5 separate regions of the Homo sapiens genome follow, and all the other regions are linked to region 1. The links come from fine-mapping of genetic effects on gene expression. A gene starts in region 1. Each other region holds a variant in brackets. All regions are shown on one strand. Distances are from middle to middle.

Region 1 (5,106 bases):
CAATAAAATTACAAGTATCTCCAAGTACCCAAAAGCTAGAATCTTGATACTAATTTTAAAATAAAACTAATAAAACTTGTCTTATGTTTTTTGAAAAAGTTCTGCTTAACAAAAACACCAAAAATTAGCCTTTTAACCAATGCTTAATGCAATAAAGGACTCTGGAAATATGAATTTAGAAAATTTTTGTATAAGAGTTTTAACCCACAAACATGTTATTCAATTGTTTTTTCTTCAAATATAAGACTACATCAGTTTCTTACTGTTTTCATTATTTTTAAAAGAACATTTAGTATACTACTACTCAGTAAAGTGCCTCATGTGTTTGTCTTACTTTTTATTACCTTATAGAGAACAGTGTCTTAACTCCTGAATTTAATCACAAAAAGTGAAAAAAGATAGGAAAACGATTTGTTGAAAGCCACGTTTAGAACAGAAATAACAAATGTCAGATGAAAAAGGCTCCTCTAACAGAGAGTCTCCCGCACATAATCCTTTTTAAAACTAAACATCTATTATCAGCTCTTAATCTATAATGTGTGTCTTGCTTGATGAATTGGATTGAAAAAAATTAAATAAAACGTGTAACAAAAAAATGAACACTACAAACTATAACAGAAGTCTGCCTACGCAGTACCACCCTCGGACTCGGTAGAATACAGGACAGAAATACACTTGGTCCTGCAGTCATAAGTCAAAGTGGCAAAGAAAAAAACAGAAACAATACATTACATGAAATAGATATTTTCTAAATTATCAAAGGCTACAGACACTCATCCAAAGCATTCCTCAAATTTTTTCAATCGTTGCTTTTAGGCACACCTTGAGGTTTTTAAGTTTACTCTGGGGCAAGTCAAAAAGCTTACCTAAAATAAAGCACTTTAAGCAAGAATAAAATGATGCAGCTGGTCCTAGAACACACCGGAAATAAAAATCGTTGTCTTCAAAACCCGAAACAAGAAATGACATGCTTTTAGCAAATTTGACTTTCATGTGCAGGGGGGAGGGGGCACTGTTTTGACAATCCACTAACTACACTGTACATCTACTCCACCTGAAAGTTTAACGAAACTCTTCAAGTTGGGTCACCCAGGGACCGAACTTCTACTCTAAGAGACCCAATCCAGCCTACAAATCAAAGAACATCCCCAAATGGTTTACCCTTCTCCCGACCAAACCCTTTCCCCTGGGCGACAGAATGTTTTCAAGAACACCAACACACCCTCCTGTGATCTCTCTCCAAACACAGGACACAGGAAGAACCGAGGCCACTAGTCTCAGATAAGCGGGTGATGACTGCTGCCACTCCACGGGCGGCCCCTCTGCAGAATGGGGTCGGTCAGGACCGGCGCGCCGGGTAAAGAACAATACACGAGCCCAGCTGCAAACAACACAACTTCCCACGAGTCTGCGCGGCGGGTCTCGGCGGCGGAGAGGACTTCGGAATCCGCCACCGGGCAGGGGCTGGGGGAGGAATGGTGAGCAGGATGAGCGCTGAACGAGGACGGCGAGACCGCCAGCCTCGCTGCGGCTGCCTGCACCGGCGCCCGCCGAGCAGACTGGAGGGATGCAGCCACCAGCCTGGGTTCCACCGCTCTCACCAGGCGACGCGGATGCCCCGACTTCGCTTCTCTGGGAGGCGACCCCCGCCTCCCGGGGCCGCCAGGGCGGTGGGGGGCGGGGAAGGCCTCGCCGGAGGCTTGGGAGCCTCCTCGGCCCGCCACCGAAGGGAAAGCGGTCGGGGCGCGGGGGACAATAGGGAGCGGGGAGCGCGGCCCGCCAGAGTGGCGCCGCTGGCCGGCTGGGCTGACTGACGCGCACGCCGCGAGGCGCGACTGGGCTCCGCTCGGCCCGGCCGCCGCTCCGCCGTGGTCGCGGCGCCCCCGGCGCTCGCAGTCGTGCCTCACCTCCCATCCCCGCCGCCCAGGAGAGGAGCAGAATTAACACTCTCAGCAACACCATCTTCCGCTGCCGCTGCCGCCGCCGCCGCCTCCTCACGGGTTAACAGCAGCACATCGATCCGGAGGGAGAAGCTGAAGGGGCTTGGTCCGGAGCCTCCACGGGAAGCCGGGACCTCCCCTGGCAGGAGAAACGGCGAAGCACCTCCCTCTCGCTCCACTTCAGGGGCCGGCAACGCTCCTAGCTCCTCCAAAACAGGGACCTCCCTCCCCCTCGTTCGTTTCCTTCCTCCTTTCCCCGCTTTCCTTCCCTTGCTCGTTCCCTCTTCTCTCCCCCCCTCCTTCGAAACTCAGACCTCCGCCTCCTTCCTCACCACGTGACGCGCGGGCACCCAACTGGCACGCGGAGCCGCGCCCCTACCTCCCGCCCCTACCCGTCCCCCAGGCGCTTCAGGGGCGCGCGCATGCGCGCGGGGGACGGTTCCCGTGCTGCTAGGCCTGCCGCCGCTTCCTGTCCGCCGGCGGAGAGCTGGGATTGGGCTTGGGAGGCGGGGTTTGTCCTGGTCCCGCCCCGGGGCGGGAGCGCTCCTACGCGGAGATAGTGCTCCGCTACGTGTTAGAGCTGCTGAGGACCTTCCCTTGGGCTAAAATGGTCCGTGGAAGATGTAAGCAGGGCTGCTTTCGACTTCTTAACGTCACAAGTAACAGAGGTTTTTTTTCTTCTTTTTCTGCCTCTCTTGGTGCACCACAGCTACCAAGTAAACAAAAAGTCCCAACAAGCAGTAATTATAGCGGCAGCTGCCCCAGTGATGCGAACATAAATGCAAAGACCTTCAAGCAGCAGGAAAAAAAGACACCATGTCCGAGATGTAATTTTCCGAGCTCTTTACAAATTTATGTCACAGACTAAGGCTTTAGCCTTTGCAAAAGCATGCAACCTGAACCAGACTGTCTTGAATCTCCAGTCCAGAAAATGTCCTCTTTTCTCTCTGTCACATCTTTGAAGCGAATCCACGCACATCTTCTCCCCAACTTCTTAAAGCTTGTGTTTGTTTTCTCGTAACTCATTTTGATTCTTTAAACTTGGATGTCATGAACTAGAACTTTTTATGGCCATTTAATTAGATATTCTTCATCTATTTGGTATCGTGCTTGAGTAGGCCGAATTAGGGAGAGTGTGTGTGTGCGTGTGTGTGTGTGTGTATGTGTAAATTGTTTTGTTTTGCTTTCTAAAGACAAGGTCTCCGCTGTCTCGCCAGGCTGAAGTGCAGTGGTGTGATCATAGCTCACTGTAACCTCCAACTCAAGCCGAATTAGGGAGAGTGTGTGTGTGTGTGTGTGTGTGTAAATTGTTTTGTTTTGCTTTCTAAAGACAAGGTATCCGCTGTCTCGCCAGGCTGAAGTGCAGTGGTGTGATCATAGCTCACTGTAACCTCCAACTCAAGCGATCCTCCCGCCTCGGCCTCCCACAAGTGCTGGGATTACAGGCGTGAGCCACTGCGCTCGGCCTTAATGTTATTGATACTGTAATAAACTGGAATTCCTATACTGTTACCTGTATATTTTATACCATTTATTACCATTAACATAAGTGAAGAGAATTTTTTTTTTTTTGAGACGGAGTTTCGCTCTCGTTGCCCAGGCTGGGGTGCAATGGTGTGATCTCGACTCACCGCAACCTCTGCCTCCCAGGTTCAAGCGATTCTCCTGCCTCAGCCTCCCAAGTTGCTGAGATTACAGGCATGCACCACCACGCCCAGCAAATTTTTTGTATTTTTAATAGAGACGGGGTCTCACCATGTTGGTTAGGCTGGTCTCGAACTCCCAACCTCAGGTGATCCGCCCGCCAGCCTCCCAAAGTGCTGGGATTACAGGTGGGAGCCACCGAGCCTGGCCATAAGAGTCTTCTTTAATTCTCAGTTTGAGAAATGAATGATTCTAGTTTTGCTGCAACATTAATAGGCTCAAAAACGGACGTTTCAAAACCATCATAATTGTATCCATTTATAATGAGATACATGGAATCATCAAAGGATGGCAGAATCTCACGAATGGTTTTTTTTTCCTTCATTAAAATATTCAGTCTTAGGAAATAGTTACCTGCAGACATTACATCTCATATCACCTGTGCTTTTTACTAATCTCTTGTGGTAGTGCTGTCAACAAATGATATTTTTATTTTCCAGCTCTTAAACCACCTTATAGCATGTTTTCTGTTGCACAGTATTTTTATAATGAATTCCAGTGATTAGAGGCAAATGGCACTTTCCCTTAAAATTCAACTGGAAAAAACTCCAAAGCCATATTTTGCATTACTAAGATGATTACTGAAAATTACATTTATAAAGACTGTATTTTTTTTTTTAATTTTTAAAATGTATTTATTTTGGCCAGCCACGGGGCTCACAGCTGTAATCCCAGCACTTTGGGAGGCCAAGGTCCGCAGATCACTTGAGGTCAGGAGTTTGAGACCAGCCTGGCCGACATGGTGAAACTCCGTCTCTGCTAAAAATACAAAAATTAGCCAGGCGTGATGGCGGGCGCCTGTAGTCCCAGCTACTCGGGAGGCTGAGGCAGGAGAATGGCGTGAACCCGGGACGCAGAGCTTGCAGTGAGCCGAGGTCGCGCCACTGCACTCCAGCCTGAGCGACAGAGCTAGGAAAAAAAAAAAAGCCGGGCGTGGTGGCCTGTGCCTGTAATCCCAGCTATTCTGGAGGCTGAAGCAAGTAATCCCAGCTACTCAGGAGGCTAAGGCAGGAGAATCACTTGAACCTAGGAGGCGGAGGTTGCAGTGAGTCGAGATGGCGCCACTGCACTCCAGCCTGGGAGACAGGGCAAGACTCTGTCTCAAAAAAATTAATTAATTAATTAATTAAAAATAAAAATCAAATAGCCAGTGCAGTGGTATGCACTTGTAGTCCCAGGTACTCGGGAGGCCGAGATGGGAGGACTGTTTGAACCCTGGAGGTTGAGGTTGCATTGAGCTGTGATCACACCACTGCACTCCAGCCTGAGTAACACAGACAGACCTTGTCTCAAAAAAAAAGAAAAACTGTATTTTTTTTATTTGTCAAGCACGAATGGCATTACATACCAGCATGCACGAATGGCATTACATACCAGCATGATAATGAATGGTATTCCAGTGTTACAAGTTTGGGCTACTATTTTAACTTAATTCATTATTGATATTTTGCAAATGTATGGA
Region 2 (5,106 bases), 180 kb before region 1:
ATAAACACCTGTAATCCCAGCACTTTGGGAGGCTGAGGCAGGCTGATCAATTGAGGTCAGGAGTTCGAGACCAGCCTGGCCAACATGGTGAAACCCGGTCTCTACTAAAAATACAAAAATTAGCTGGGCATGGTGGCGCATGCCTGTAATCCCAGCTACTTGGGAGGCTGAGGCACAAGAATCCCTTGAACCCGGGAGGCAGAGGTTGCAGTGATCTGAGATCGCGACACTGCACTCCAGCCTGGGCAATAGGGTGAGACTCCGTCTCAAAAAAAAAAAAAAAAAAACCAAAAGGAAACAAAACAATAAAATCATTATCACAAAAGGAAACAAAACAATAAAATCATTATCACAAAAGTGAGGCTGTGATAATCCCAGGAAAGAGGAAGGGCACCCTGGAGTTCCAGGTGCCAGCAATAGTCTACTTCTTACTCCAGGTGGTGGGTACACACACGTTCACTGATTTAACCGTTCTATATACATCTACATTTCACGCACTTTTTAGTATGAATGTCACCTTTCACAATGTGAAAATTAAAAAGGGAAAATAAAGGGCAGAGTTAAACAAACATGTTTCTACTATAGTGTGATATGTTTCAAAAGTAATATAGTTTCACAAGCAATATAATTAGAAATTATTTCATCTTTAGTAAGAAAACTTGAAGTGCCACAATACATGGTAACATTTTGGGCAGAGAATTCAACAAGCATCCAACGTGACAAGTGGTTAACTGGAACATTTGAAACTCCTCTTGGCATGTCCAAATCTGGTTGCCAATTCTGTTGTCGGTGGATTATTTTCACTTGGAGGGATGTGTTCATCGACATCACATTTTCTTAAGTATATTCGAGTAGGGAAGTCAAATTGGGAAACTGAATAATGCAGTCACATCTGTTCGTTGCACATGCAAAATGCTGGCTCGTGAACTGATTATACACACCTCTCTCCAAAGAATCTGCATTTATGAGCCCACTCAGGAAAGATAACACTAGCATCTTGCCTTTTAGGCAAAAGCTTATTTGTGCTTCTCTTGTAAGAGAGCACTGGGAAAGAAATGGAATGTCGATTACACTGCAGCTGGGCTCTTTGAGGTGAGTAAGTCAGAGAGAGAAGGAAACAAGCACTCCATTCAACATTAAAATGAACGCACTCTGCTGCATCGCAAAGCTCCCTGTCCTCAATGTTCACCTTGAGTCATGTCGGCCGCAAATACTGCAAAAGCTTGGATTGCAATACACGTCTGTGGGGCAGCAAGGCAAGGGGTAAAGCTGCCCAGTGCTGTGCTTGCCCTCCCACAGAGGCTGGACCAAAGTAAAGTCAGAGGGATGGGAAATAGACAAGCAAGATGAAGACTAAAGAAAGTCAGTCCCAAAAGGGACCATTTACATGGTCCCATAATACATACTTCTATTTGAATCCCAATGATCCGTACATGATTAATGGCTCCCGACACATCTCATTCCTTCCCTTCTCTTATCCCTTCCTCCTTTTCTTTTCTCCCCTGGAATTGCTCTGCCTAACTTAGTCCTATTTATCTACCCAGGCCCAGTTATTTTCACCAGTTGCCTCCTAGCCTGGCCAGGCCACAGAGATCTTTCTCTCTTCTGAGCGCCTGGCAATCACATAAGTGACGCTCTCCGCCATCCACTTGGCCTTTAGTTATTTGTGCCCCGCTGATTCCCCTCCAACCTCCCAGCCTCCCTGCTGCTCCCTGCCCTCCATTCAACCATTCCAGGGGAGCCCAGACCTCCTTCCCTACTCGCACGTTTCTCTCTTTATAGGCAATCTCACCCACTCCTATGGCTTTATTTATGATCAACCACATAGGCCAACCATTCTCAGTGTAGAGCTCCAGCCTGGGCCTTCTCTCCAGACCCGTATTCCCATATATTATGCAATTGTCCATTCCACAGTTCCCGCTGTGTCATCTCTCCCTGCATCCAAAAATGAATGCATGATGTTTCTTGCCCCTGGAACCTGCTCATCCCCATTCTCTCTGTTGTTTATCTCCTTGAAGGTCATTACCACCCACCCAGTTGCTGGTGGTGGACTCTGGGGAGTCATCCATTATGTGTCCTCCCCTTTGGCCCCTCACAATCCAATGATCACCATATTCCATGAATTCTACTCTTATTTCTTAAGCGTGTCTATGTCTCCCCACCTCTACTGCCATCAACCCAGCCCAAGCCGAACTATCGCTTACCCAGACATTTGCAACAACTTTCCAACTCATCCCTCAGACACCCTCCTCCCTCTCAATCCCTTCCCCTCACAGCGACCAGAGTGATCTTAAAAAAAAAAAAAAAAAAAAAAGGTTATATCATTTTCCTGCATAAAGCCCTCCCAATGACCTCCCACGTTTTTTGGAAAAAGTCCAAAATAATTACCCTGGCCTTCAAGGCTCCCAGTCAAGCCCCTACTTTTCTCCCCAGTCTTGCCTCCCATTACTCTCTGTCTGTCACTCACTAGGCCATTGTCCAGCTCCACCCACGGAGTGTCCGCCCAGCCTGCATTTTATTTTTAATTTTTATTTATTTATATATTTATTGGAGACAAAGTCTCACTCTGTCACCCAGGCTGGAATGCAGTGGTGCAATCACAGTCATTGCAGCCTTGACCTCCTGGGGCTCAAACAATTCTCCCAGCTCATCCTTCCGAGTACCTGGGACTACAAGTGCACACTGCCACATCCATCTAATTCCTAAATGTTTTGTAGAGACAGGGGTCTCACTATGTTGCCCAGGTTTAGCGTGCACTTTAGAAATGCCTGAGGAGCTTTAAAAACTAGCCCTGCCTCAGCCCCACACCTAGAGATTTTTTACTTAATTGGACTAGGGCAGGGCCCGGAGATTAAGACTGTTGAAAGCTCCCCAGGTGATCCTAATATGCACTAAGTTTGAAACCCAGAGGTCTAGACAACACCAGCCACCTCAGTTCCTTCAAAAGCGCAAAGCTCTCTCCTTGGCCCCTTCTGTTGCTTACACTCCCACCTCTCCTCCATTGCATGCTTGCAGCTCCAAGTTAGGTGTTACTGCTTGGGAGATCATTTAACAATTATCTCATCCTACCCGAGCTTCAAGCAGCTCACCCTGCCATCCATAGTCAATGTTTTTTTATTCTCC[T/C]GGTGAAATGATTTGTGGCCATGCCATGCAGAGCCACATTGGAGCCTGAGGCAAAAGGAAAAATCAGTAATAGTGAACCTGTGTTTATTTATATATTTATTTTTTAGATGGGTCTCACTCTGCTACCCAGACTGGAGTACAGTAACATGATCACAGCCCATTGCAGCCTCAACCTCCTGAGCTCGAGGGATCCTCCCACCTTAGCCTCCCAAGTAGCTAGGACTACAGGTGCATGCCACCAAGCCCAGATAATTTTTATATTTTCTATAAAGACAAGGGTTGCCCAGGCTAGTCTTGAACTCCTGGGTTCAAGCAATCCACCCTCCTTACCTTCCCAAAGTGCTGGGATTACAGGAGTGAGCCACTGCACCCAGCCTGATCTTGCTGTCACCTAGGCTGGAGTGCAGTGGCCAAATCAGAGCTCACTGCAGCCTCAACCTCCTGGACACAAGCAATCTTCCGGCCTCAGCCTTCCAAGTCACTGGGATTAGATGTGAGCCACCATGACAGCAAAATGTTTATATTTTATGTATCATAGATTTTTGCATTCATTTCCATTAGAAAAATTTTTGCATTAAAAATTTTCTTGATAACTGAGTTTTTGGAGCCCCCTTACATTTTTGCACTCAAGGCAAGTGCTTCACTAGCTTTACCCTAGCCGTAGGCCTGATCTTTGAAATGGTTTCTTTACTGCCTTTCTCCCCCACTGGCCTTGAAGCTTGGTGAAGTCAGGGAGAGGCTCTCATTGTTCACTGCATTATTCCCAGTGCTCAGCCTATCACCTGGTACAGAGTTGGCATCCTGTAAATGCTTGCTGAGTTAATAAGTGACAGGTATCTCTTCTTATCTGTATTTTTTTCCTCTTGATTAAATCAGAAGCTTCAGCTACCACACCTGTCCAAGATAGAGTTCACTGCTTCCTCATTCAGCTTAGAAACAAAGCCAGGTTGGCGAGGCGGTTGACTTCCTCCCTCCCTCATCTCTTGGCCCTGCCGGCCTCCTCTTACGTTAGCTCAGTTTCTGCCTCAATCAGTTCATCAAAATCCCTTTGGGTTCCTTGACTACATTTTTACTTTTGAAACACGTCTATCACAAAAAGAATTTTCCAGTGTCTTGGAGCTATCTTCCTGTCAAATAAGATAGAATTAGAGAATAACTGTAAGGGTCATCTACAACATCCCTCTCAACCCATTCTGTGCACAGGCACCTTGTTCACTGGCATTTCTGTCACCGTAGGTCTGGGGCACATCCTGACAGCAGGCATTCCTAACAAGCTCTCAGGCGATGCCATTGCGGCTGGTTCCCAGGCCACGCTGAGCAGCGTGAATGTAGACCAGTGTTTCCCAACTTTCCCCAATGATATGAATCACCTGGGCACTAAAAAATAAAGCTTCCCAGACTCCTCCCCTGGAGATTCGAATTCAGCGGGTCAAGGACAGATCCTAAAGATTTTTCTTTTCAACAAGTACCCGGGCTAATTCATCTCTTCAGAAAACTGGGGCAACACTGACGGAGTCCAACACCTTCCTCTCAAGAGAATATCACAGGTGTGGCCCAGCACCGCCAGGGAAAGAGCTTCCCCTACCTTGCCGTACCTTCTCCCCTCGCTTTCTTCCCTGGAAGCCATAGAGAGCAAATCAAACACATCAGCTATCTGAAGACAGTCTGCAGGAGACTGTGAGCCCCTTGAGGGCAGAAGTTGTAATGTATTTTTAGGTTTTGTTATGTGGTTATTTTAGGTTTCTCATTTTAAAGATATTTTATAAGAGTATAAAAGCAGTGCAACAATGCAAAGATATGTAAAGAGAAAGCTGGTCATCCGTCTCCCCGCACCCACCTTCTTCCCCACCCCAGCGACCCGAAGTGAAGATTGGTAACAGCCTGGCAACGTTATTCCTTCGAACATAGACAAGCATTTATCCACACTCAAGGCTTTTGTTTGCTTGTTGTTTTCACCAAAGTGGAACCATCGTATATATATTA
Region 3 (5,106 bases), 370 kb before region 1:
AGGGACCTCCAAAGAAACCAGCCCTGCCAACCCATTGCCCTCAGACTTTAAGCCTCCAGAATTACAAGCAAATGTCTGTTGTTCAAGCTATCTAGTCTGCGGTACTCTGTTACAGCAGCCCCAACAAATTGATACAGCCGTAATTAGCTAGACTTGAGATGAGATTATCCTTATAGGGGAGGAAAAATAATTTCCCTCCCCTTTTTCTGAGTTTTTATTGGCATGGACCCTTGTAACAAAAGAGATTAACAAGAGACAAACAGAAGTTTATTAACAGGTCTACTATATATATACAAGAAAGATACCCAGGGAAAAGTGAGTAAATCTCCAAGAAGTTGCTTTTAGTTCAGGTCAAATGTCATCTTCAGAAGAAAGGAAGGAAGGAAGGAAGGAAGGAGGGAGGGAGGGAGGGAGGGAGAGGGGGATGAGAGGGGAAGGAAGGGCGCCAGTTTTGGGGAGGTCAGGAAAAGCACAGTAATAAGAGCAAGGTTTTTCCTGTGGATTTACTCAGTGCCTTCTCCATTGAGAAAAGTCTCTAGTGATTTGGAGGATTTCTTCTCTTCCTGGTACAGAGCAGGTACCTTACAAATGGGGATTTCCTTTAGAAAATACAATTCCCTTACAAAAGGGTAACTTCTACTCTTTGTTTTTAGAGTTACTCTGGTGTCTACAGTTTCTTAGAATAATTAGCTCAAAAATAATCCTCATGCTAAAGAGGCATATTTTGGAGTAGCACATTCTGGCCTCCTACAGTCGTATTTTGGAGTGGCATAGTTTTGGTATTCTACATCCTGGAAGATCTAAGGGGGCCCAGTGAAATCACAAGAGTCCTTATAAATGGAAGAAGGAGGCAAAGGAACAAGAACTAAAAAAATGACAGTGTGAGAAGGAGTTGGCCTGATAATGCTGGCTTTGAATATGGAGGAAGAGGCCACAAGCCAAGGAATGTAGCCTAGAGACACTGGAAAAGGCATGAAAATGAATTCTCTCCTACAGCCTCCAAACGAAACACAGCCCTGCTGACACCTTAATTTTAGTCCCAGGAGCCCAATTTGGGACTTCTCACTTCCAGGATTCTAAGAGAATAAATTTGTGTTGTTTTAAGCCATTAAGTTTGTGGTCATTTGTCACAGCAACAATAGGAAGCTAATACACTTTCGTACAGGTCATTTTTCTAATACAGTTCTCAATGCAGCCCTTTAGGACTTCCCTACTTAAAATTGAACCCCTCCCCACTCCCCTTTCCTGCTTTATTTTTCTCTAACACACAATATAGTTAGACTTATTTATCATGCTTATTGTCTCTATCCTTTGTTTAAAACATAAACACACAGCTGGCAGGGTGGCTAATGCCTGTAATCCCAGCACTTTGGGAGGCCAAGGAGGGCAGATCACTTGAGGTCAGGAGTTTGAGACCAGACTGGCCAACATGGCGAAACCCCATCTCTATTAAAAGTACAAAAATTAGCTGGGCGTGGTGGTGGGCGCCTGTAGTCCCAGCTACTCAGGAGGCTGAGGCAGGAGAATCACTTGAACCCAGGAGGCAGAGTTTGCAGTAAGCTGAGATCGCGCCACTGCACCCCAGCCTGGACGACAGAGGAAGGCTCCATCTCAAAGAAAATAATAATTAAAAAATAAAAATAAAACATACATACACAAGGGCAGAAATCATTGCTTCTTTGGAATAGTCCTACCACACAGTAGGTGCTCCATAAAAATTCAGTGAATTAATAACTTAACTTGAATATAGTATTAAGACTAATCCTTTATCCACATAACAGATTCCCTCCACCAAAAAAATTAGCAATTTTGTGGTTATCTCTTTATATTTTCCTCATATAATTTTAGAATCAAACAGAGCCTGCTCCACCCATAATGAAAGTCAAGGAGGAAAGTACATTGGAAATGAGGAATAATTAAAACAACTGTATTAGGCAGGGCTCTCCAGTGAAATAGAACCAATAGGAGATTAGATAGATAGATAGATGATAGGTAGATAGATAGATAGATAGACAGATAGATAGATAGATAGATAGACAGACAGATAGATAGACAGATAGAGTCATGCATCGCTTAACTACAGCACTGTTTTCTGAGAAATGAGTCATGAAGGCAGCTTTGTCATTGTAGGAATGTAACCAAGTACTCCCATTCGTCTAAGAAAAACAGAATGATTTTTTTCTTTTCTTTTCTCCTTTCTCCTTTTCCCCTGTTCCTCACTTCCTACTTAGACCTCCCCATCACCAGACATTCCCTACAGGGCAAGTTCATCTAACTATATGCTTAGGGGCTCCAGAGTGGAACTCTCTCCCGGCTGAAGATTGCCTCGAGAGCAACACTCAATTTACAAGCCTAAGTATGCCCACTACAAAATTCTCTCCCACCTGGAGAGTTTCAGACACTTTTAAAACCTAGTTCTGCCCATGAAGGCGCCAGCTCAATGGCCCAGTAGATAAGGCACTGAAGCGAATTATGTGGACCTCCATCCAATTGCTTTCTCCCCTGCATGCCATTCATGCCAAGC[C/A]CCCTTTTAAAATAATTCCTACTTTCTGCACCTGCTACCCTTAAGACAAGAAGCCTGTACTTCTTCCCCTAAGCTAGCTTTGAAATATAATATATCACTTTTTTTAGAACTAATAAACAAATTTATTAACGTTACAGGATACAAAATCAAGATGCAAAAATCAATGGTGATTTTATACACCAACAACAATCTCATTTATATTAGCAACGAAAAGAAACCACTTAGTAATTAACTTAGCGAAAGAGATGAAAAATTTGTACATTGAAAATTATAAAAGATCGATGGAGGAAATTTAAAAGACACAAATAAATGGGAAGACATCTCATGTTCATAGATTGGAAGAATTTTTTTTAACTTTTAGTTTAATTTCAGGGGTACATGCGCAGGTTTGTTATACAGGTAAATTTGTGTCATGGGAGTTTGTTGTACAGATTATTTTATTACCCCAGTATTAAGCCCAGCATTCACTAGCTATTCTTTCTGATCTTCTCCCTCCTCCCACCCCCACTCTCCAATAAGCCCCAGTGTGTGTTGTTCCCCTCTGTGTGTCCATGTGTTCTCATCATTTAGCTTCCACTTACAAGTGAGAACACATAGTATTTGATTTTTTGTTCCTGCATTAGTTTGCTAAGGATAATGGCCTCTAGCTCTATCCATGTCTCTGGAAAGGGCATGACCTCACTCCTTTTTTATGGCTATATAGTATTCCATGGTGTATATGTACCACATTTCTTTATTCAGTCTACCACTGATAGGCATTTAGGCTGATTCCATGTCTTTGCTATTGTGAATAGTGCTGCAATGAACATACATGTGCATGTGTCTTTATAATAGAATATAAAGCAGTTCCTTTATATCAGACCTCACTCTTGTTAATTGGACTCTGCAAGCAGTGAATGACTGGATCTGCATTTCAGTTACAGGAACAACATAAAGTGTACTTACACAAATTTACACGATACAGTCAAATATACAACTAGGCTATATGATAGAGCCTATCGGTCCTAGGCTAAAAACCCTGTACTGCATGTTACTGTACTGAATACTGACAGCAGTTGTAACACAGTGGTAAGTATTTGTGTATCTAAACATATCTAAACATAGAAAAGCTAAAGTAGTATAATCTTATGGGACCACCATTGTATATGTGATCTATCATTGACCTAAATGTCATTATGCAGAGCATGACAGTATACATATATAAAATAAGGAATTGGTTCACAAGATTATGGGGGCTGAGAAGTCCCGAGATCTGTGGTCAGGCAGCTGGAGACTGAGGAGAGTCAAAGTATAGTTCCAGTTTGAGTCTGAAGGCCTGAGAATCGAGAGAGTAGATGGTGAAAGTTCTAGTCCAAAAACCAGCAGGCTTGAGACCCAAAAACAGCCAATGTTTTAGTCTGAGCCAAAAGGCAGAAAAGACCAGTGTCCCAGCTCAAGCAGTCAGGCAGAAGGAACTTCCTCCTACTTGGCCTTTTTTTTCTATTCAGGTCTTCAACTGATTGGATGAGGCCCAGCCCCATTAGAGAGAGCAATCTGTTTTACTCAGTCTGTCTATCAATTTAAATGTTAGTCCCATCAAAAAACATCCTCTCAGATACACCAGAATAACGTTTAGCCAAAAGTCTAGACACCCAAGGCCCCGTCAGGTTGACACATAAAATTAACCATCACAACCACCAATTTGCATCAATAACATTGGACAAAATGGTTTAGGACATCTAACAAGTGAAATAGAGGAGTTGCTCTGCCCCGACCAAGCCTGAGCCTTGGCTCCACTCCAGCTGGTTCCTGTGCTTGGAGAATAGGAAATCTTTGGAAATATTAGTCAGTTCCCTAGAATATTTAGAAATCCTTGTCCTATAATCAGCCATTTCTCCATAAATACTCCATCAGTTCTCACCTGGATTCCAGACTATATCCACACAGACCATGTATGGGTGAATTCAATAATTCTTTACAAAATAAGTGTCTGATGACTGGGTGCCGTGGCTCATGCCTGTAATCCCAGCACTTTGGGAGGCCAAGGCGGGCAGATCACTTGAGGTCAGGAGTTTGAGACCAGCCTGGCTAACATGGTGAAACTCTGTCTCTACTAAAAATACAAAAATTAGCTGGGGGGCGGCAGGGGGCGGTGGTGTGTCCCCGTAGTCCCAGCTACTCAGGAGGCAGAGGCAGGAGAATCGCTTGAACCTGGAAAGTGTAGGGCGCAGTGAGCCAAGATGGGGCCACTGCACCCCAGCCTGGGTGACAAAGTGAGACTCTGTCTCAAAAGAAAAAAAAAAAGTGTCTGATTGTGATTACTTATTTCATTGTTAAGACAAATGTTCTGGGCTGATCCATCTTTGGCCCAGACTTTCTAGGAACATCAGCTTTTTACTTGTAGCAAAACTATTTACCTGTTTTTGTAGACTAAATTATTCCCTTAACATAGGTAACACAGGCCTGGTCTTGACCCTAGGGAATTTGAACATTTTCCTGAATTATTTCTATGTTCTTATTGATATAATCATGGTAACACTTCCTTCTTTTCTTTCTCCTTCAGGAATTTATTGAGCACTTATTATGGGCTAGTCTTAGTGATT
Region 4 (5,106 bases), 140 kb before region 1:
AAATTCATACTTCTGTGACTTTTTCACATGCTCTGTCCCCATAAAATATTTCTGTACTCTCTACTTCTACTAATTCTTAAGAACTTAGCTTGGCCGGGCACGGTGGCTCATGTCTGTAATCCTAGCACTGTGGGAAGCCGGGGCGGGTGGATCACCTGAGGTCAGGTGTTCAAGACCAGCCTGGCCAACATGGTGAAACCCCATCTGTGCTAAAATACAAAAATTGGCCAAGCATGATGGCAGGTGCCTGTAATCCCAGCTACTCAGGAGGCTGAGACAGGAGAACCGCTTGAACCTGGGAGACGGTGGTTGCAGTGAGCCGAGATTACGCCACTGCACTCCAGCCTAGGTGGCTGAGTGAGACTCCATTTCAAAAATAAAAATAAACAAAGAACTTAGCTCTGGCGTTATCTCCTTAAAGGCTTTTCCTAATAGGTTCTCCCAGTTCTGTGAAAACAGCACACAGACTGAAGATATGTTTCTCTGGCCTGTCTTCTCTATCCCAAACTGACCTGTGAGCTCCCTGGACTTATATCCTATTACCTCAGTACCTACCCAACAAACAAAATACCTGTTGAACTAGTTATTACAAGTAAGTCATTATTTAAATATTGACCTTGAAACATAACTAACAGCTCATTTATTACTTCCAGATTGCCTAACACATACAAATAATGTGACAAGGCCGTTACAACAGAGATAGGACAGTAAAACTGGTTTGGATATATTTAATGATAGTCTTTTTAGTACCTACACACTCTTTTTTTTCTCTTTTAAGAGACAGGATCTTGCTCTGTTGCCCAAGCTGGAATGCAGTGGTGCAATCACGGCTCACTGCAGCCTTGCCCTCCTGGGCTGTGGTGATCCTCCTGAGTAGCTGGGACTACAAGGTACATGCCGCCACACCCTGCGAATTCATTTATTTATTTATTTGCACACACAGGTCTTGCTAGATTGTCCAGGTTGGTCTTCAACTGCTAGTCTCCAGCAATTTTCCCTCCTCAACCTCCCAAAGTGCTAAGATTAAAGGTATAAGCTACTGTACCTGGCCTATAGATTTAAATAAAGAGCCATACGAGTACACGCTATGGCAGTAAGAGAGGCAGATTGGAGACAGAAAGCCCAGATTTAGTAGTGGTTAAAACTGTAGAAAACAAAGGTAAAAAGAACCTAGTCGCAGTTTAGATCAACAGATGTATAATAAAATATGGCACTCAAGCCCTTCAGAACTTCCAGTTCCTTCTAGCACAGTGTTCCTGGCTTTCTTCTAAATTTTTTCAGGTAACTATGTATCTCACAAGCCCAATGCTTGAGATGTTTTAGTGCCAATGATAGTAGCTTTTGTGAATTTAGCGTGTGGGGAAATGGAACATGGCAATAGACAAAAGACAGTAAGAAAAACTAAACAAAATAAATAGTGCATCTGAAAATATTAGTAAGTACGGCCACCTTTATAGTTTTCCTTTTTAAAAAAAGAATGAGTTAAATGCTAAATTACATGCTATCCCCTTTAAATATACTATAAAATCAGGGAAAGGAATACTAACTAGGGTAGTAAATGTAAAATATGCATTTCTCTCAAAAGAAAAGATCACAAATTGCCCACCTGTTAGTCTGAAAGAAAGGGGAGCTGTCATTCATTCAATGAACATTTACTGAGCGTAAACTGAGTGCCAGGGTCTTATATCCCAGAGACAAGGGTGTTAAGCAAAACTTTAGGGACAAAGAGAAGACATCCAACCATTTTTCAAAAACTCAAGAAGTTTCTCAACTCAGAAAATAATTCTACATAAGAAAAAGAGAGATGATGTTCAATACAGGCACTTAAACATAGCCAATAATAAAGTAAAAAGTCAAAATTAAATAGTCTAATTTATTATGTATTAATTACAATAGTATTTAATTTGATAATCTAAATATAAACAAAAAGAACCTATATGGTAACAAAATGACAAAGCAAGTATCATCTAAAAAAAAGTGCATGAGCGAGGACAGGGAAGACATGCACTCAAGTCTCTTCAGACATAAGATAATCTACTGTTCTTAAAGACCTCCAGAAAGTCAACCATATGATCCTTTCAATGAATACTGCAGTGTTCAACAACGCTCACTCTCAGCAAATGCATTCTGGACTTCCCATGGGTCACAAGACCATGTGGGGCCCAGAGCTCCTTGCCATGATACTGATTATGTCATCCCTATAGGGGCAGAAAGTTTCCTTTCAATTTTTCAGAAGACATAATACTATAGTCTGGGCTTTGAATATATACTCCTCCTATCCTTCAAACTCCCACCACCACTAGCAGCAGCAGCAACAGCGATCTGCCAAGCAGAAAGCAACTTGCTACTAAACTTTTGGTTACTTTAAGCTCAACCTGGGCAAGTAAGATAAAATACCACTAACAGGAACCTGAAAACATTCCAGTTTCAAAGTTAATATGCACAAGTTTTACTCTTTTCCATATAAATTATTACATTTGAGAAATCTGCTTCATT[C/T]ATCTAGCAAATGTATACTGTGTCCTCACTATATGCTGAAAACCTTACAATATCATTATATCTTTGTTGTTAAAGTTTCATTAAGTGCTATGCTATGTGGTCTGTTCCACAAAGCAATGAAACCACCTTCTATTTTCAACATATCAAGATGATAAAATGGAAAATTTCTGTTACAAGTCTTTTTAAAAAGGAGTCACATATCACAGAGACTGAAAAAAATGGCAGACAAACTATTAGCACGCACCATCACCTACTGACTCAGTGGGTCTGGAATGGAACGTAAGAATTTGCATTTCTATGAAGTTCCCAGGTGATGCTGATGCTGCTTCTCAGGCCTACACTTTGAGATCACCGCTCTCGATCAGGAGTTGGCAAATATTTCCCATAAAAGCCCAGATAAACATTTGAGGTTTTGTGGGGCCATACAGTCACTGTTGCAGCTACTCAAAGTGCAAAAGCAGCCAAAGACAATGTGTAAACAAATGGGTGTGGCCATGTTCCTATAAAATGTTATTTATCAATACTGAAATTTGAATTTCATATGATTTTTAAAAGAATGTTTTGATAATTTTTAAATTTTTTTCAATCATTTAAAAATGTAAAAACCGTTCTTAGCTTCTGAGCCATACAGAAATAGGCACGGGCTGGATTTGGCCCATGGGCCATAGTTTGCCAACCCCTGTTCTAGATGAGTGGTTCTTAACCCTGGCTCCTCATCAGAATTAACTGGAGAGTTTTAAAAGACCCAGATACTTAAACCCAAGAGATTCTGATTTAATTAGTCCAAACCCTAGGGTGATTCTGGTATACAATCAGGATTGAGAACTACTGCTATTAATCAATATTTTTCCAAATGACATCTAAGGATATTTAGGACTTAGTCTTTTCATCATAAAAGTTTCTAGGGTTAGGTAAGTTTGGAAAATGAAGTTTAAACGATTTATTTATTGCAGGTCTTCTCACAAATCTCCAAGAAAGGTCTATAGTATGGAGTAGTTTTCCAGATTCATTTGACCATTGAAGGCCCAGAACATCTAATGGAACTAGTGTTCTGTTAAGCATTTGGGAAACAGTGCTCTAAATCTTTCATTCATAAAGAATACCAGATACTTACTACTTAGATGCATAAAATTATAGCAAAATATGACAGCAGAAACTAATTTTAAAATGAGAATGTGTTTGACTCTTGATAAATTAGCAATACAAAAATACAAACTCCTGATAAATCTGAACAAGTTAAAAAGAAAAAAGCCACAAAATCATCAGGCAATGATTTTTAAAAGGAGGGGAAACACAACAATACATTTGAACAATAAAAGTCAAGGTAAGAGGTAGTTTTCTACAATGTCAAACCTAACATGAAAGATACAGAAAATCAGAACACATCAACTATAGAAGAAACTGGAAATGAATTACCAATGCCCTCAATCCCTAATTAAAGAAAAGGAGATGCTGAAATAAGGTCTCAACAGATTTACTGATGAATGCTCTTAAATGTTTCAAGAACTAGATGACTCTTTGATAAATCCAAAGGATGTTTATCATTTTATCCTGTCCAAACACACAGTAGGCACTCAGCAAATACAGTAAATGTATTTGGAAAAATCAAAACATAGTTGTCAACACAGAAAAGAAAGTATCACTTCCGTGGTACCAGTAGCAGCAGTCAATAACCCATGCCCTGAAGTTCTAAATTGTTAAGGTTCTTCCTACTCTACCCTGCATGAGGAGAAAAGCTGCCATAGTGTAACACAGAAAGAAGACAAAACGCCACCAGGCACCACTGGAAAGGAAAGTAGTGAAACTAACCCCTCACTTCTTTCACAGCTTCTTACACAAGAGCATCCTGATAATCTGTATTACTAACTGGAAGGGCACTTCCCTAACATGATAAATCCCGGTATGCAAGTAAACTATGCACATAAGCAAATGAGACAAGTAACTTGTAAAGACCAGATGTTTATTATCTTACTGCTTGATGTGGTTAATGCCCACAAATGCACCAACAGCCTAGCGGTACTCTTCACACATTATGAGCATGCTATTCGAAAGACTGGCATATGCCTGTCAACAATGATATAAAATAAAGGCATGTTCTATCCCACACACACTTAAAGTCAACGTCTATGAACTTGAAAGTGTCTGATTAATTAGTTCCAGAGCACAAGAAAGGACTTCATGTTGCCAATTCATTGTGAAACATTTCATTAATCCTCACATCTAAAATATGGGGAGAAAAGGTCTTAAAAATACTTAAAAGATCATGTCTATTAAATATTTTTAAAGTGAAAATAAATGGGCTTTTGAAATTCTAAATAATGTAATGAGTGAAAATTAGAGATAACAGAGAAAAGTAAAAAAATGCTATGTTTAGATATGACTTAGTACCCCAAAAATCTAAAATATCTAGCACAATATATACTCAGTAGAATGTAATTCTGAGATCTCCTTTCGTTTTCTGTATACACTGTCTTCTACAGCAGACAAGTATACCAAATTTCAACTTTTCTTATTAGAGACAATCAGAAAAAAAAATAGCTGAGTTGAAAATAAAGAAGGGCCAAGAAAGGTAAGCTGCTTGAAGTCACAGAATTGATAAACACCAGAAAG
Region 5 (5,106 bases), 280 kb before region 1:
TAGGACCCACTTCCTATAAATGTTGAGAAGATTAATGGGAATGATGCATGTAAAATGCTCGGTACATGATAAAAGCCCAGTGATTACTCATTATCCCACTCAATGCTTGGGGAAAGGCAAAGCAGCTAATATTACCCCAGATTATAGATAAGAATACTGGGTTCAAAAGAGATCACTTGGCTTACCCTTGTCTATACTGCACCTGCATGAATCATGGACCTGAACCCAGGTCACGGCCACCTCCCAGACCCTTGCTCTCTCTGCTTCCCCAGCAGCGCCTCTCAGAGTGAACACCTATGTCCATGACAGTGATTCCCAAAGTGTTGTCCCCAAACCAGCAGCATCAGCATCACCTGGGAACTTGTTAGACATGTTAGGGTCTCACCCCAGACCTAATGAATCAGAAACTCTGAGAATGAGGGCCCACAATCTGGGTTTTAGCAAGATCTCCAGAAGATTCTGATGCACACCCGTTTGAGAACCAAAGCTCCATGGAATACTAATTTGCCTTTGGATCTAGCCCTGCCGCCCACTCGAGATGGATGGTCCACAAATCTCAATGTGATTCCTAACATGAGTTAAGCTGTCCAACCCTGTGACGTTATCAGGGGATTTGTGATTAATACATAGTGACACCATTTAACTGTGGCAGAGGTTCTTACCCTTGGAAGCTCATTAGAATCATCTAGGGAACTTATAACAGAAAGGCCCACCCCAGACCAGTTCAGATCTAAAGACAGCCTGGACTGACAACCACAGAACTACAGAGCTGCCACCCAGACTCCATGGAACTCTGCTAGGCTGGTAATATTTTTAATTCATTAAGGGTTTATGTGTTTAACAACCCAGGTCCAGTAAATTGGCTCCTTTCCTCCCTATGAACCTTGGACACTCTGGCTGGTCAAGCCTCCACCTCATGCCCACTTGTTTGCACAGCTACTAACGTTTATGAAGTATTTGCTTAATGTACCTAAGCTCCACTGCCCAGAGCTATCCCACTTGATCTGAAAACGTCATGATGAGGTATGGTAAGCATTAAACATTAGTTCACCATAGTTCTATTTTTTTCTAATAACTTAAACGGCTTCAGGGAACATTTTGTGTGTGTGTGTGTGTGTGTGTGTGTGTGTGTGTGTGTGTACGCCTTAAGAGACTGGATCTCACTCTGTTGCCCAGGCTGGAGTGCAGTGGCATGATCGTAGTTTACTCTAACATTGAACTCCTGGCCCAAGTAATCCTCCTGCCTCAGCCTCCCAAAGCACTGGGATCACAGGCATGAACCACCATACCCACCCTAAGGAATATAGTTTTTTGAGCATGTTGGAGTACTCAGAACTCTCAGCTCAGCTCTTGGCCCACTTGGGTCTCAACCATTTAGAGTACTGATTACCAAAGGAAGAGCACAAAGGAAGAAAATCAGCTTTTCTCCTCTTCCTCAGTGTGGGAGAGGGGATTTGGCTTGGGCTCAAAGCCATAGTGATGCTTTCTGCTCCACCCCCTTTCAATTAAAGATCACCAGCTTCCCAAAAACAGGCCACCCTCATTTTCCAACCTGGCTCAGGCAGGGAAGCTGAGAAGCTTGGGGCTGCCCATTCACCCAGTCACCAGGCAGATAGACAGGTAAGAGAACTGGGACCTTCAGGCCTGCCCTCGGGAGGACTGGCCACCAGGCTTTACAGCCCAGAGCAGAGAAACACTGTGGCCGTTGCAAAACTCCTTGAGTGAAGTGACCCTACCCTCTACTAAAAACGTGGCCCAGTGGATTCCAGTTACTAACAAAGCTCGTTGAGAAGATGCAAGAAAGGAATGGAACAATGGCTAGGACCTCCCCGCGGCAGCACTTCCCCCAAGAGAATAGAGGAGCTGATGGGCACGTCACATTTTTCTCAATGCTGGATGACATTCCATCACCTTCCTCATCTTCATGGAATTTTTTTTTTTTTTTTTGAGACAA[G/A]GTCTCCCTTTATCACCCAAACTGGAGTGCAGTGGTGCAATCATGCCTCACTGCAGTCTTGACCTCCCAGGCTCAAGGGATCTTCCCACCTCAGACTCCTGAGTAGCTGGGACTACGGGTACATACCACCACACCCGGATAATTTTTGTAATTTTTTAGAGATAAGGTTTCACCACATTGCCCAAGCTGGTCTCAAATTCATGGCCTCAAACAGTGCTTCGGGTTCAGCCTCCCAAAGTGCTGAGATTACAGGCATGAGTCACCGCACCCAGCTGGAATGCATTCTTTGAATTTTAAAAGACTGTAAATGAGAGATTTGTTCAGAGAAGAGGGTGTTTCCTATGTACAAAACCAAAGACCAGCTTTTATTTTTTATTAGGTATTATAGTCACAAAGGTATGAAAGGGTATATAGTAATAAGTCTAAGAAATTTTTATGAAGTTTTTGAAGTAAAAAGCATTTTTATAAAATTTTAAATAAAAATTTTAATAAAATTACTCAATTGTTAAATGTAACTTAAAATTACTTTTTCATAAAATTACTCATTTTATAAAACACATTTTTCCTACTTTGAAAAGTAGTACATGCTTAATACAGAATTGGAAAAGACAAAAATACAGAAAGAATTGCATTTAACTCCTTTTTTTTTTTTTTTTGGTAGAGACGAAATCTCGCTCTGTCACCCAGGCTGGAGTTCTGTGGCGAGATCTCGGCTCACCGCAACCTCCGCCTCCCGGGTGCACACCATTCTGCTGCCTCAGCCTCCCCAGTAGCTGGGACTACAGGTGCCAGCCACCACACACAGCTAATTTTTATATTTTTAGTAGACATGGGATTTCACTCTATTAGCAGCCAGGATGGTCTTGATCTCCTGACCTCGTGATCCGCCCAAGTCAAAACTTCAGATTTTGCCAAACACCTTGAAAGTATGAGTAGATAGAGGAAGACTCGTCCTTTTGTCTGCCTCCTTTTCATCTTCCTAATACCTAACACCTCTCTAATCTTTCTAGAAATGGGTAAGAAAAGCTTCCATAAAGAAAGGTGGAGAGAATTGAAGCATGGTAGTATTTTTGCAGGAGAAATTATAAGGTTTGAAATTTATGGAGGCCTCAGGACATACCCAATGACCTAAGGTCTAGGCCAGAGATGGTAAGTAGGATTTTTTTTTTCTTTTCTCTTTTTTTTTTTTTTTTTTTTGAGATGCGGTCTCACTCTGTCACCCAGGCTGGAATACAGTGGTGTCATCTCGGTTCACTGCAACCTCTACCTCCCAGATTCAAGCGATTCTCCTACCTCAGCCTCCCGAGTAGCTGGGATTACAGGCACTCGCCACCATGCCTAGCTAATTTTTTTTGTATTTTTAGTAGAGATGGGGGGGGGTGGTCTCACCATGTTGGCCAAGCTGGTCTCGAACTCTTGACCTCAAATGATCCACCAGCCTTGGCCTCCCAAAGTGCTGGGGTTACAGGTGTGAGCCATCACACCCAGCTGATAAGTAGCTTTAAACACAAGTGAGGATTCTATTCCATCAGGAATGGCTGCTTTATGCAGAAGAACTCTAAGATTACATCAGGCTAAGGGTGACAGAATGCTGTAATCCATTAGCCTTATCTGTCATGGTCATGGCAGCAGCAAGAGGCAGTCTGAGTGCCATACACTGCAGTAATCTAGGGGTGAGCTGAATAGTGAATGGAGATTTGCCTAAAAGAAACTTCTGGAGTCAGTGCTCCAAAACTCTGAATCAACCAAATGAATGAATTGAGCCAAATAGAAATGCATGACTATTCAATATTTATTATGTAGAGAGGCTTAGAAAGGGCAGGCACCTGGAGTTCCTCCACCCTCCTCACCCAATCACAACTGCCCTTACTGCCCTACCAGTCCAGCCACGTGCCCTTTCCCACCCCTCTCAATGACCCTTGGGCTCCCCAGTGAAGCTCCCTGAGGGCAGGGGACATAGCTCTTTGGGGCCATAAAGGCATTAGCTCACCCTTCTCAGCCCCTTACACATTTACTGGGTACTTAGATCAGGCCAAGTGTGGTGGCTCATGCCTGTAATCCCAGCACTTTGGGAGGCCAAGGTGGGTGGATCACCTGAGGTCAGGAGTTCAAGACCAGCCTGATCAACATCGTGAAACCCCATCTCTACGAAAAATACAAAAAATTAGCCAGGCATGGTGGCACGTGCCTGTAATCCCAGCTACTCGGGAGGCTGAAGCAGGACAATCACTTGAACCTGGGAGGCAGAGGTTGCAATGAGCAAAGATTGCACCATTGCACTCCACCCTGGGCAACAGAGTGACATTTGGTCTCAAAAAAAAAAAAAAAAAAAAAAAGAAATCTTAGCAGGATTACATCTGTAACCCCGGCACTTTGGGAGGCCGAGGGAGGTGAATCACATGAGGCCAGGTGTTCAAGACCAGCCTGACCAACATGGTGAAACCCTGTCTCTACCAAAACATACAAAAGTTAGCCAAGTGTGGTAGCATGCGCCTGTAATCCCAACTACTCAGGAAGCTGAGGCATGCGAATCACTTGATCCTGGGAGATGGAGGTTGCAGTGAGCCAAGATCCTGTCACTGCACTCCAGCCTGGGCAAGAGAGTGAGACTCTTGTCTCAAAAAAAAAAAAAAAAAATCTTGCCCCTTCCCTCAAGGGGCTCACAGCCTGTGGGAGAGGGAAAATAGATATAATTATATTTAAAGAATTATAAAACAAATTGTATAAATTTAAAATTATAATTAAATCATTGTAATAATTTAGATCAGAAAAAATAAAGGCAAGTAAGTGCCAGGCATGGGGCTAAGCATTGTACTCACCCACTGTATTCCATGTTGTCTTCACAACGGCCTTATGAGGTTTGCTAGTATTGCCCCCATTTTACCAAGAAACTGAGGCTTAGAGCATTCAAGCTAGCCAAGGGCTAAGCCATGACTCAAACCCAGGTGTGTCTGACTACGGCTGTTACTAAGAGGGGAAGGGAATCATCTGAACTTGGGTTTCACTCAGAAAGGGGCATGGTTTTGTTAACTTTGAAAACACTACCACCCTACCCTCTAGCACTGGCAGAGGGGAGCTGGACGCCTGGACAGCTGGGGAGGGGGAGGACGGCAGCCAGAAGCAACAGCCTCTGCAGTCCCAGCAGCTGGGAC

Which allele goes with the higher level. Alleles are on the strand shown, and positions count from the first base shown. SD is a standard deviation of normalised expression in the study named. Not every link is listed here.
As copies of C replace A in region 3, the expression in thyroid of the gene that starts at base 2,135 in region 1 goes down (small effect, 0.33 SD a copy in GTEx).

What was found.
Region 2: its variant is fine-mapped to the expression of ADAM10 in whole blood (TOPMed, PIP above 0.99).
Region 3: its variant is fine-mapped to the expression of ADAM10 in thyroid (GTEx, PIP above 0.99). The same link has a PIP of 0.9 or more in lung.
Region 4: its variant is fine-mapped to the expression of ADAM10 in whole blood (TOPMed, PIP above 0.99).
Region 5: its variant is fine-mapped to the expression of ADAM10 in fibroblasts (GTEx, PIP above 0.99).

The regions. Positions count from the first base shown.
Region 1 is chr15:58,747,573-58,752,678 of GRCh38, forward strand. ADAM10 (ADAM metallopeptidase domain 10) reads right to left here and starts at 2,135. Exons shown (of 16, transcript NM_001110.4): 1 at 1,908-2,135. The coding sequence starts at 1,962. RefSeq lists enhancers at 1,268-1,903, 1,355-1,484, 2,575-2,754 and silencers at 1,595-1,884, 2,215-2,504.
Region 2 is chr15:58,570,834-58,575,939 of GRCh38, forward strand. No RefSeq gene overlaps it. Among named protein-coding and RNA genes, the nearest start is that of LIPC-AS1, 75 kb to the left of the region's middle. The variant T/C (reference allele first, on the strand shown) is at 3,124.
Region 3 is chr15:58,376,455-58,381,560 of GRCh38, forward strand. No RefSeq gene overlaps it. Among named protein-coding and RNA genes, the nearest start is that of LIPC, 53 kb to the right of the region's middle. The variant C/A (reference allele first, on the strand shown) is at 2,525.
Region 4 is chr15:58,603,989-58,609,094 of GRCh38, forward strand. The region is part of intron 14 of ADAM10 (ADAM metallopeptidase domain 10); the gene reads right to left. Among named protein-coding and RNA genes, the nearest start is that of LIPC-AS1, 110 kb to the left of the region's middle. The variant C/T (reference allele first, on the strand shown) is at 2,497.
Region 5 is chr15:58,468,004-58,473,109 of GRCh38, forward strand. The region is part of intron 1 of LIPC (lipase C, hepatic type); the gene reads left to right. All of the region lies in intron 2 of LIPC-AS1 (LIPC antisense RNA 1), which reads right to left. Among named protein-coding and RNA genes, the nearest start is that of LIPC-AS1, 28 kb to the right of the region's middle. The variant G/A (reference allele first, on the strand shown) is at 1,955.